Homo sapiens: one gene and its partner. The protein of the gene in region 1 purifies or fractionates together with the protein of each later gene. This does not show direct contact. Each region holds a gene or a part of one and is shown in the gene's direction. Other genes may lie near its edges.

Region 1 (3,500 bases):
TTCAATTCTTACTGGAGTCTTTTGGACTTACTGGAGTCTTACTGGAGTTTTGTTGTTTACCACCATCTCTCTTGACAAGGTTTGATCTTTTTCAAAAACACATTTTTCTTCTGGTAGACTTTTTAATCTTTCTTTCCTGTACTTACTGTTTTCTTCTACTTCCTGGAGATTTCCTCAACTTTCATGCTGGCTATCATGTTTTTAATTCCCAAGAGCCCTTTCTTACTCTCCAAATGTTCATTTTATAACATTCTGCACTTGTTTCATCAGTGTATTGTTTTATCTTTCCAAGGATATTAATGATAGCTTTTATGTTTTCTTCATCCACTATAGACAGTATTTGTTTCAGGGTACTTTCATCTAGTTGTTTTTGGTTTCTGTCTCTTGTATTTAGAGGCTTTCCTCGGGAATCTGGTGATCTCTCACTGCCTGCACATGGTTAAGAATAGGGCACTAAAAAGCTGACTGGAAACTCTCTGCACATGGGTAGGACCTTTACTTTCGGGGCCCTTCTGTTAGCGGGGCCATTATGCTGGGAACCTACACATCACTGCATTTAAGACTTTTCTCATAGTCTACTCAGATTCCCCAGAGAAGATGCTTTCCATCTGCTTCCTGGAAGGTATCATTCTGGCTGCCAGTCTTTCAGGAGCCATGTAGGGGAAGAAAGCTAAGTGTCTCAACACTTTGTGTAAATATTCACTTATTTCCCTTATTTTCCATGTAGTACCCTGTCTCTCAACTGTATCTGGTATCCTCTAAACCAGAGACCCTTCTGTTTTTGGTGATGGGGGTGGGTGATGACAGTTGCTTTGCTGTGCAGAATGAGGAAAGGAATCTGAGCTCTTCTTGTTTAAACTGACTTTGAGCCATTCCTTCTGTGTTTAGCTCCATTTTCATCTCCACTTGCAGAGATACTTGGAGCCACCAGTTCTTTTGAGGGGTTATGTGGTAGAAATTGGGTTGATTCTCATTTTTCTTTCTTTTTTTTTTTTGAGGCAGAGTCTCACTCTATTGCCCAGGCTGGAGTGCAGTGGCACGATCTCAGCACACTGCAAGCTCCGCCTCCTGGGTTCACGCCATTCTCCTACCTCAGCCTCCCAAGTAGCTGGGACTACAGGCGCCTGCCACCACACCCGGCTGATTTTTTGGTATTTTTTTAGTAGAGACGGGGTTTTACCATGTTAGCCAGGATGGTCTCGATCTTCTGGCCCCGTGATCCACCTGCCTCAGCCTCCCAAAGTGCTGGGATCACAGGCATGAGCCACCGCGCCCGGCCAATTCATTTTTCTTGATTGGTGGCTTAGAATTAGTTTTCTTGAGTCTGCTAAGTCCCACTCAACAATCTACATTATAGCTTCCAAAATATTGTTATTGTTGCTATCTCTTCTTTAGTTTCCTTTGTCCTTGTAGAGTTCTGCTTTTTAAGATTATCTGTGTCCAGGCACGGTGGCTCACACCTGTAATCCCAGTACTTTGGGAGGCTGAGGCAGGTGGATCACCTGAGGTCAGGAGTTCGAGACCAGCCTGGCCAACATGGTGAAACCTCATCTCTACTAAAAATACAAAAAATTAGCCAGGCGTGGTGGCGGGTGCCTGTAATCCCAGCTACTCGGGAGGCTGAGGCAGGAGAATCACTTGAACCCAGGAGGCGGAGGTTGCAGTGAGCCAAGATCATGCCATTACACTCCAGCCTGGGCAACAAGAATGAAACTCCATCTCTAAAAAAACAAAAACAAAAAAAAAGGTTATCTCTGTTCAGGCCTGGCGCAGTGGCTCACACCTCTAATCCCAGCACTTTGGGAATCTGAGGCAGGTGGATCACCTGAGGTCAGGAGTTCGAGACCAGCCTGGCCAACATGGTGAAACCTCATCTCTACTAAAAATACAAAAATTAGCCAGGCGTGGTGGCATGCATCTGTAGTCCCAGCTACTGGGGAGGCTGAGGCAAGAGAATCACTTGAAGCTGGGAGGCGGAGGTTGCAGTGAGCCGAGAGATCACACCACTGCACTCCAGCCTGGGTGACAGTGTAAGACTCTGTCTCAACAACAACAAAAAAATTATCTCTGTTCATGTAAAAGTAGTGGGATGTCAAAAGGAAGCAGCATCTAATATGCATTTAAATACTATCTTTAACAGAAAGTCCCAGGCATTTGTCTTTAACAGACATTATTTGACAGGAGAAAGAGGCTAATTGATAGGATTTTCACCGTATTCCTAGTTATAATGAAAAGCAAAAGAACTATTTGGTATTGAGGTGATTTCTCTCATCTTCTAGGACTTTCTGTCTCTTCTGAAGGCCCTTCTCAAAGACTTGGAACACCTAAGTCTGTCAACAAAGCTGTATCTCAGAGTAGAAATGAGATGGGCATTCCACAACAAACTACATCACCAGAAAATGCCGGTCCTCAGAATACGAAAAGTGAACATGTGAAGAAGACTTTGTTTTTGAGTATTCCTGAAAGCAGGTATTTCTTTAACATGTTAATAAGAGTTTAACAGTTGCTGATACTAAATACCATTTCAGATTGTTAAGATGGTAAAAGGTGCCAGACATATATTTTTAATAAATTTCATAATGACCCTGCAACATATAGGCAGTACTCCCTTTTTATAAATGAGGAAACTAAAGCTTAAGGTTTCAGGATACTAAATGGTCACGTTTAGTTGGGTAAATTCTGCAGCAGTAAGAAGAAAAGAAGCAATATGGTATCCTTTGGTGCTAAACATACTACAACTTTGGTGCTCAACAGTTCTGAGCTGAGAAGAGCTCTGTGACTTACTAGCTATGCAACTTTGGGGCAAGTAATTAATTCTCTTTAGCTTCACTTTCATCATCTACAAAGCAGCAGTGCTAATGCCTCCCCAAGGTGGTTGAGAGATGGACACTTTTTACCAGGCTTTGTAGAAAGTACCTTGAGATTGTTTTCTTGACAGATGGCAGAGCATATTGAAGGGGGGGGAGTTAATGTGTACTGAACAACTGTTATGGGCTAGATATGCTTCTAGATTTTTTTGTTTGTTTTTTGGAGGTGGAGTCTCACTCTGTTGCCTAGGCTGGAGTGCAGTGGTACGATTTCGGCTTACTGCAACCTCTGCCTCCTGGGTTCAAGCGATTCTTCTGCCTCAGCCTCCCGAGTAGCTAGGACTACAGACACGCGCCACCACGCCCAGCTAATTTTTGTATTTTTAGTAGAGACGGGGTTTCACTATGTTGGCCAGGATGGTCTTGATCTCTTGACCTCATGATCTGCCAGCCTTGGCCTCCCAAAGTGCTGGGATTACAGGCGTGAGCCACCATGCCCGGCCTACTTTGTATATCTTGTAGTTTACTATTGTTTGCTAAGAAGATTCATAATTGCATTTGAGTCATAAGTACTCTTTAAAAATGTTTTGGATTCCCCAAAACATCCTCAAAGGGCATCATACAAATAAGCAACTTTGTGTAATAAAGGCAAAGTAAAGCTGGACACTAGAAAAATAGAGCATATCTTTTTTA
Region 2 (3,500 bases), on another chromosome or scaffold:
ATGTATGCCTTGGTAGAAGAAATGAACTAGGAGTTCACAGATGAGAGTACCAGTGTTTTTAGTGAATTATTGCATTTATATAGGTCTTGACTTCCTCAATTATAAAATTAGAATGTTTGACTTGACTTGTATAGTTTGTGTTGCATGCACAAGTCTTAGAACAGTTCTTGCATACCGATAGCCTAGTTGCTCCCTCAAGTCACCCCTTGCCAGGGGTTATCTGCAGCTCTTATTCATGCGTATTCCACCTGTCCAGATTGTCCTGTGAGTGGACCCTATTTGTTCTTCAGATATCTCATGGGTCTGTGCCTGAAAATTGTCCTGTTTTGGAAAACAGCACTGTTTGGGCTGCTCTGTTGATTATACCCTTTGTGATGGAAAGCTACGGCTTTTATTTACTTACTTATTTTTTTGAGATGGAGTCTTGCTCTGTTTCCCAGGCTGGAGTGTAATGATGCAATCTCAGCTCACTGCAACTTCCGCTTCCTAGGTTCAAGCGATTCTCCTGCCTCAGCCTCTCGAGTAGCTGGGATTATAGCTGTGTGCCACCACGTCCGGCTAATTTTTGTATTTTTAGTAGAGGCTAGGTTTCACCATATTGGCCAGGCTGGTCTTGAACTCCTGACCTCAGGTGATTTGCCCGCCTCGGCCTCCCAAAGTGTTGGGATTATAGGCGTGATCCACCTTGCCTGGCCAAAGCTGCAGCTTTTAGTGCAACCTGTGTAATTTAAACTGCTGGCCCTTTAGTGAGCCATTACTGACAGGCCGGCTTACTTCCTGACAGTAAGAGCGGTATGAAATGTCAGCTTACTATGCTTTAAGGAGACTAACAGACTACAAACTAGCAATATAAGAGTATGAAAATGGATTTTCTGCATGGCATGGTGGCTCACACCTGTAATCGCAGTACTTTGGGAGGCCAAGGCGGGCGGATCACCTGAGATCAGGAGTTCGAGACCAGCCTGACGAACATGGAGAAACCCCGTCTCTACTAAAAATACTAAAAATTAGCCAGGCGTGGTGGCAGCAACCTGTAATCTCAGCTACTCAGGAGGCTGAGGCAGGAGAATCGCTTGGACCCGGGAGGCGGAGGTTGCACTGAGCCGAGATCTCGCCATTGCACTCCAGTCTGGGCAACAAGAGGGAACTCCGTCTCAAAAAAAAAAAAAAAAAGAAAAAAAAGAAAATGGATTTTCATCATACCTGAAAACCAGTCTTTCTCATCTGTGGTACTGGAGAGAATGAGGCCCTGCAGCAAATGATTTGCAGGACTAATCTCTGAATCGTACAAAGATGGTGTTATATAGCCAGTGCTACTCTAGATGCACGGGAGATAAATTACTTCATTACCTTCTGGCGTCCAAACTGCACTGAACACCTCAGCAAACTTGGGTGGATTTTAGATTTTGAGAGGAGGCACAGTAATACATGACATAATTTAGATACCTGCATGACAGGCCAGGGGTGGTGGCTCACTCCTGATCTCAGTACTTTTGAGAGGCTGAGGCGGGAGGATTGCTTGAGCTCAGGAGTTCAAGAGCAGCCTGGGCAACACAGACCTCCATGTCTCCAAAAAAAGAAAAAAATTTTTTTGGAGATGGTTGTGGCGGCACTTGCCTGGAGTCCTAGCTGCTTGGGAGGCTGAGGTGAGATGATTGCTTCAGCCCAGGAATATGAGGCTGTGGTAAGCCATGATCGTGCTACTGTACTCTAGCCTGGGTGACAGAGTGAGACCCCATCTCAAAAAAAAAAAGATACTCACATGAACTTGGAGCTCAAGGTAGCTCGTGGTTTCAACGTCAGATTGCGCTAGACTCCTTTTGGAGATGTCATACTTTTTTTTTTGCAAAACTGCGTTCTGGTAATGACTGCAATAGAAAGCAGATGCCTCAGGAAGTTCATGAGGAACAAGAGAAAAGGGGGCACGTTTGGTCTCCAGGATTGGAGAAGGTATGCAGTGCCCAGTAGGCATATGAGTCCCATTAGTAAGTTTGGTGTTTTTAAAATAATTTATTTCAATTTATGTTTTGTTTTTCTTTTTTTAAGGCTGCCAAGTTTTAGGGAATGTAAATTTTTGTTGTGTGGATCTCACTACTTAAACTGAACCTGACAAAGATTTCTTTTGGCCCACGGAGCTTCTGGATTGCATAGGATGGTGTGCCTGCGGGCATCAGGGTGGAGCTTCCTCAGACCTGGCTGCTTTATTTTTATATCTTTTTTAAAAACAGCAATATTTATTTTGCCCTCAGATATAAAAGGAAACTCCTCATCAATGACTTTGGAAGAGAGAGAAAATCATCATCAGGAAGGTAAAGGCTGTGTAAATGTTTCTTTTCTAATTTGATAGACCTGTAATTTGTTAAAAAAAAAAAATTGTGACTGTCAGAAATGCTGACTGTCGCAGTAGCATTTATTAATACCTTTTTCACTAATTTGAAATACTGTATCTGTTGTGTACTAAATTCCCATACATGCAGTCTCCGGACTATTTAGGATTCATATGGTTGGGAATCTGGAGTGAATCTTCCATTATTGTGTTTTGACATTTTCTTGGCTTACCTTACATACATGGTGATCTTAATTGCAGGGCTTATTCTGTTAATCTGTTGTTTTTTCAGTTCTGATTCAAAGGAGTCTATGTCTACTGTGCCGGCTGACTTTGAGACAGATGAAAGTGTCCTAATGAGGAGACAGAAGCAGATCAACTATGGGAAGAACACAATTGCCTACGATCGTTATATTAAAGAAGTCCCAAGGTAGTCTTGTTTCAGTGGCATGTCTTGAACAAGCTGTGTGGCATTGCGTTTCTAAAGAGTTGCTTAGATTGGGTAGTACAAATGATGCTGGGGATAGTTCACACCTGCTAAGAGCTATTTAATAGGGACTTACTGGGGCTTATGACGTAAATAAAGAATGGATTGGCAACTGGAAAACTAAAGACATGAAGATTTTAAAAATCATTTTCATATAATTTTGAATGTTAGATAACATTTTATTTCTTAGGAGTCAGCAATCATAGATGTAAGCTTATTAAAATACATGATGGGGAAAAATGAAGTTCAAGTTAAATATTGTAAAATTCTAATTGGAGAAAAAAAAATTGGCATTGCCCTATTGTCTTTAAGCAGCATGTTCTTGCCTATCCTGGTCCCTCAAACACACAGACACAGAAGGATATAAAGAAAGCTTTAGTGTTTTCCTGAACTTTTTGGCAGGATTGGGGTTGAAATTTACATTTCTGGGCCAGGTGCAATGGCTCATGCTTGTAATTCCAGCACTTTGGGAGGCCGAGAGGACTGCTTGAGGCCAGGAGACTAGCCTGGGCAATATAAGGAGACCTCATCTCTACAAAAAATTTAAAAATTAGCCAGGTGTGGTGGTTTGCACCTGTAGTCCCAGCTACTTGGGAGACAGGTGGGAGAACTGCTTCAGCCCAGGAATTCAACGTTACAGTGAACCATTAATCACACCACTGCACTCCAGCCTGGGCTGCAGAGTAT

The links. The genes of interacting proteins can lie anywhere in the genome.
Region 2: the proteins of DLGAP5 (region 1) and SLBP purify together in Homo sapiens (co-immunoprecipitation; one large-scale study listed by IntAct). This does not show direct contact.

Annotation. Positions count from the first base shown.
Region 1 is NC_000014.9:55,153,586-55,157,085, reverse strand, and holds part of DLGAP5 (disks large-associated protein 5), read left to right. Parts: intron 1-2,279; coding exon 2,280-2,469; intron 2,470-3,500. UniProt on the Homo sapiens protein: Potential cell cycle regulator that may play a role in carcinogenesis of cancer cells. Mitotic phosphoprotein regulated by the ubiquitin-proteasome pathway.
Region 2 is NC_000004.12:1,698,820-1,702,319, reverse strand, and holds part of SLBP (histone RNA hairpin-binding protein), read left to right. Parts: intron 1-2,249; coding exon 2,250-2,309; intron 2,310-2,618; coding exon 2,619-2,756; intron 2,757-3,500. UniProt on the Homo sapiens protein: RNA-binding protein involved in the histone pre-mRNA processing.